2 separate regions of the Homo sapiens genome follow, and region 2 is linked to region 1. Evidence: fine-mapped expression QTL. A gene starts in region 1. The other region holds a variant in brackets. All regions are shown on one strand. Distances are from middle to middle.

Evidence for each region.
Region 2: its variant is fine-mapped to the expression of FAM217A in testis (GTEx, PIP above 0.99).

Annotation. Positions count from the first base shown.
Region 1 is chr6:4,077,815-4,080,729 of GRCh38, reverse strand. It overlaps FAM217A (family with sequence similarity 217 member A), which reads left to right and starts at 1,593. Exons shown (of 7, transcript NM_173563.3): 1 at 1,593-1,878. It also overlaps the pseudogene TEX56P.
Region 2 is chr6:3,784,627-3,787,541 of GRCh38, reverse strand. LOC124901244 (a long non-coding RNA gene) reads left to right here. Exons shown (of 2, transcript XR_007059412.1): 2 at 1-583. Among named protein-coding and RNA genes, the nearest start is that of PXDC1, 34 kb to the right of the region's middle. The variant A/G (reference allele first, on the strand shown) is at 1,759.

The sequences.
Region 1 (2,915 bases):
CCGATGTGCTTGACATGTAGTGGGCGCTGGGAAGGTGATGAGCAGATACCTAAGGGATGGCTGCAGAATTAGGGTTTCCTCCTTCCGGCATTAGGAGGCAGTTGAGCAGGTCTGTATTTTAGAGCAGCAGTATGGAAAACAGCCGAAGGAAGAGAGGGCCCTAGAAGGGAAACCTCCAAGGAGGCTGCAAGGAATGAGGCCTGCACAAATCTTGTTCGTTCACTTACATCGATTGTGCTTCTACCACTGTGCTTCTACTATGTGCCCAGCACAGTTTTAAAGGGTTGGGGATACAGAAATGAACTAGACAGACAAGGCCCCGGCCCACATGGAGTTTGATATTCTACTGGGGAGAGACAGACAATACAAAAACAAACAAGTAAACAGCAAGATTATGAGGAGTACAAAGAAGTAAATAACAACGGGGTGTCATGAAATAGAGTAAGGTAGGTGGAAGGTGGGAAGAGCTTCTTTAAAGGGAAGGTCTTTCTGAGGAGAAAATGGAAATGCAGAGGAAAGAGTCAGGAGTCAGGGATCAAAGAACCTGAGAAACCCCTGACATTGTTTTCAACATGTGGTATATAAGTGCATTTTTATGGGGAGATTCTCAGAGGGACATGGCCGTGATCTCATCCCCCCAAATGTTTAGTATTCATTTGCTGTACCTAAATATATAATTAATTTTGTTTTAAATTTTTCTCTATATCAAAAGGTGGGGGTGATGATAGCTATGCAGATATATCTAACTAGATAGAGAGAGATTCTTCCCCCACCCCTCCACTTATTTCATGAAGCTGTAATAGGAGATATGCATTTCGGGGTACAAAATTGGGCTGTGTGATTTACATGTATCCTCTACATGAAAAAAGAAAAAAAATCATCTTTTGTTTTTCCTATTGAAAGGCCGACGACGGACCTGAAACTGACCGGATGAGCTTGGTGTCAACAAGGATGCCTCTTCTTCTATGTTAATATATTGTACAAGCATAGATATAACTTCACATGTATCAATGCGTATATATTGTAGCTTAGTCTGGAGGACTACGTACCGGGCGGTGCTCCTGGCTTGATGTGAGCAGGCGGTGGGAATGGAGGGTGGAGGCGGGTGGGCCGGGCCCCGGGTCCCAGAGGCCCACTGGCCATGTCGCGGAGAGCTCAGCCTGGAGAGGCCCAGGGAAGGGCCTGGAGGCCTCGGGGAAGGCCTGGGGAGGGTCAAGGAAGCCCGAGGAGGCCCAGGAAGGCCGAAGAAGGTCCAGGACGCCTGGGGGAAAGTCCGAGAAGGCCCGAGAAGGCCCGGGAGGCTCAGGCTTTCCCGCGAGGCCGGGGGCGGCCCCTTCAGGCCAGGATGGCCGAGTGGGCTGCGCAGCCCCGCGGGGGAGGCCGGGCGGGGCGCAGGGACAGGGCCTGAGGCTTGTTGTCCTCCCCTGGCGGCCCCGTGCGTCCCGCGGGCCCGGCGGCCGGGTGACCCCCGAGAGGCTCCGCGCCTGGGCGGCCGGCGGCGACCCCGCGGCCCGCGAATACGCGTGGACCTTGTGGAACGCCGGGCCTCCCCGGGCGCCCCCGCTCTCTGGTAGTTGCCGGGAGACCCGGCCGGTGGGGAAGCCCGCGGAGCCGCAGCCCCGGCCCCGGAAGGTCTCTCTGGGCCCCGGGCCCGACTCCCACCCCTGCGCCGGCCCGCGGGCTTCGCAGGCCCTGCACTGCCGACCGGGCTGCGCTCAAGGCCGCCAGCCGCCCGCCGCCCTCTTTGTCCCCCCGCTGCAGGAAGGCCGCGGCAGAGGGGGCGCCCTCCAAGCCGTCAGCCACGCACGCGGAGGCGCTCGGGCCTCGGGGCGGCGCACCGGGAGAGCACGCCGGGGAGGACACGTGGGCCTTCGCGCGGTGGGTTGAGAGCCCCGGCCCCGGGGAATCCCGCAGCCCCCTCCTGCTACCCCTGGAACTGGGCTCCCCACCCAGTCCGGCCACAGCTCAGGAGGAAAAGGGGATTCCTCTTCACGGGGGCCTTGCGGCTCCCTTGAGACACGCGCCTTCAAGCACTCTGGCCCCTAAAGCTCCTGTCCCCCAACTCGCAGTCCCCAAGGCGTCCTTTGTCCCCAGGGCCGTCCTTCAGGTGCGGTGGCCTTTTCCAGGAGCTGGATGCCCTCCTTCTTGACACACACCCGGTGGCCCCAGGCAGCGCCACCTGCTCAGCAACCGCCTTCCTCCTGCATTCAGACCTAGTGTCTGGCATGCACACACTCGTGGACCAATAACCGGTGTTGGCTGAAAACCTACCTAAACTAAATCTCCTATTTCTTCATACACTTTTCTGTAGGAGACAATCAATTGTAAACGATTAGCAGATAGACCGATTACTGCGGTGGCTTTAATTTGTGATTCTTGGCCGGGTGCAGTGGATCACGCCTGTAATCCCAGCACTTTGGGAGACTGAGGCAGGTGGATCACGAGGTCAGGAGTTCAAGACCAGCCTGGCCAACATGGTGAAACCCCATCTCTACTAAAAATATAAAAATTAGCTGGGCGTAGTGGTGCTCGCCTGTAATCCCAGCTGCTCGGGAGGCTGAGGCAGGAGAATCGCTTGAACCCGGGAGGCGGAGGTTGCAGTGAACCGAGATCGCGCCACTGCACTCCAGTCTGGGCAACAGAGCGAGACTCTGTCTCAAAAAAAAAAAAAAAAAAAAAAGTGATTCTTTCCAGATAGCCATACCTTAATCCAGTGACTGTTTTGCTTGTTACCTTAGAGTTCTCTAATTCTTTTACCTTAAACGGCAGTGGGTTAAAACCCTTTAGGTACCTTGATTGATTGGTGCGGAAAATATTGTTTGGTCCTGGGGGCATTTTGTTGTCTCCGAAATATGCACGGGGTGCTTGCCTGGCCTAGTTGTAAGGGTTCAACCCTGCTTTCAAATGGAGCAATT
Region 2 (2,915 bases), 290 kb after region 1:
ATATTTGTTAACTGGGTCATCAAGGTGTCTGACAGGACGAAGTAAGTTTGGTTTCTAACATAGTTTTAGATGTTCTGAATTCTTCTAAAAATAATACATTTGAAAACAACCCTTTATTTCAAACAGTGGTTTATCTCTGACTCTAAAACTGATGGATTTCAAAGTACATGGTTTCTTGACCAGGTTTTTAAGGTGGCTCATTACTCTACAGACACAGTCTTAAAGCGGCTTCCTCAACGGCTTGACTCACTAACCTTGCTGAATGTCCATGACGAGTAGAACTCGGTGTATTCATTTTTTAACTGATACATAATAGTTGTACATATTGATGAGGTACATGTGATATTTTGATTTGTGCATACGATGCTTAATAATCAAATTAGAGTATTTAGGATAACCACCGCTTCAAACGTTTCTCATTCTCTGTGTGTCCTTGATACAAGTAATTTCTCTTTTAGAAATTCAACCTAAGGAAACCAAGCAGAGTCCACCTTTAAGCCCAGGATGACAGGAGTGACGACATCTGCTTTGACAAGCAGTCATAAAAGTATGTTTTTAAATAAATTCCAGCTTCATGGGAAAATTCTCACAATATAATATTAAATTAAAAAGCAGGATATAAAATTATCTACAGAATATACAGTATAAACCCAAGTGTGTAAGGAACACACACAACTACGTCAAGGCAACAGAATTGCCATTTGTAGTTGTGGAATTCTGAGCAATTTTATTTTCTAATGCATTTTTGTCACATGTGTGAATATATTACAAAAAGTTTTTTCAAAAAATAGGAAATTCCAGTTGGGTACGGTGGCTCACGCCTGTAATCTCAGCACTTTGGGAGGCTAAGGCAGGTGGATCACTTGAGATCAGGAGTTCAAGACCAGCCTGGCCAACATGGTAAAACCCCATCTCTACTAAAAATACAAAAATTAGCTGGGTGTGGTGGCATACGCCTCTCATCCCAACTACTGAGAAGGCTGAGGCAGGAGAATCACTTGAACCTGGGAGGCGAGGTTGCAGTGAGCCGAGATCACACCACTGCACTCCAGCCTGAGTGACAGAGAGAGACTCTGTCTAAAACAACAACAACAAATAAAAATAGGAAATTCCATGAACAAAATTAAAAGTGAAAAATGACACCAAAGAAAATTTTTGCAAGTGAAAAGTGACACCAAAGAAAAATTTTGCAATATACATGAGTCATAAGGTTGCTGTCCCTCATTTATAAAGAACACACATATATCGAAAAGCAAAATATTAACACTTACATAGAAAAATGGTAAAATACCCTGGGGCAGAGATCAGCTCTCCACCAAAACCTGCTTCCCTTTCTCTGCAGTCCTGGCCTTACGCTGGGTCAGCCTGCTCAGGACACTATGTTTTCTGTGTCTCTTGGAGTCTGGTGTGAGTTTGAGGTTCAGCTCTCTCCAGTGGAATGTGACAAAAGTGGGGTGCATGAATTTTATGTCTGGCCCCAAACCCTGGTAAGCAGGTTATAAAACAGTTAAATTCCATTTCCAAAACTTAGTATACAGTGCTGTCAGCACTTTACTGATACGAGCTCATTCCATCCTAACAACAACTCCGTGAAGCAGGAGAGGATCTCCCCACTTTAGAGATGAGAAAGCTGAGGCTAGAGACAAAGTTCACTCTGTGGCATGTGGTCTATTTCTGCATAGAAATGACGTGAAATGTGATACACACTAAAACATTACAGTGCTTATTTCTGAATTCTGACTACAAATACTGTGGTAC[A/G]TATGTTTTCTCAACAAACGTACCATCTGTAATTACACGTGAAATTTTTAAATAGTAAAAAAATTTAAATGACAGCAAAATAATTAGAGTTTTATGGACACTAGATTGCACAATTTAAGACAGTCGGCCAGGGCCGGGCACAGTGGCTCACGCCTGTAATCTCAGCACTTTGGGAGGCCGAGGCGGGTGGATCACCTGAGGTCATGAGTTCCAGACCAGTCTGGCCAACACGATGAAACCCTCTCTCTACTAAAAATGCAAAAATTAGTAGGGCGTGGTGGCGAGCGCCTGTAATCCCAGCAACTTGGGAGGCTGAAGCAGGAGGATTGCTTGAACCCAGGAGACGAATGTTGCAGTGAGCCGAGGTTGCACCACTGCACTCCAATAACTTTTAAGAGGAGTAGATTATATGTAAACCATCCCCATCTCCCTACTTTTTTTTGGTAATTCTAAACACAGAAAACACAATTTTGTCTGCCAAAATTGTAACCCAAGTGTATTAGTCCATTCTCACACTGCCGTGACGAAATACCGAGACCAGATAATTTATAAAGAAAAGAGGTTTAGTTGACTCACAGTTCTGCATTGCTGGAGAGACCTCAGGAAACCGACAGTCATGGCAGAAGGCAAAGGAGAAGCACGTACCTTCTTCACCGGGCGGCAGGACAGAGTGAGTGCAAGCGGGGAAAGGCCAGACGCTTCCGAGCCCGTCAGATCTCGTGAGAGCTCACTCACCATCACGAGAACAACATGGGGGAAACCGCCCCCATGATTCAATCACCTCCACCTGGCCCCGCCCTTGACCCTTGAGGATTATGGGGATTATAATTTGAGGTGAGATTTGGGTGAGGACACAGAGCCAAACTGTATCCCCAAGTCTGAAAGCTTTGAAAGGAGGACAGAAGGGCTGACAATCACTGGGAGGTCACAATCCACCCTGATCCTTCTGTCTAAGTGATATGGAACTGTGCCCCATTTTAAACCATCCTGCCTCCCAAAGGCTCCCACAGTGTCTTAGACACGCAACAGAAGGTGCTCGGAACTGGATATCCCTTGGCATGACGAAGTCAACAGCACCGCTGCCGGTTACAGGGTGACTGTGGTGAACGAACAGTGCCACTGTCACGGGAAAACACTGGGCACCGCTCTGTATGACG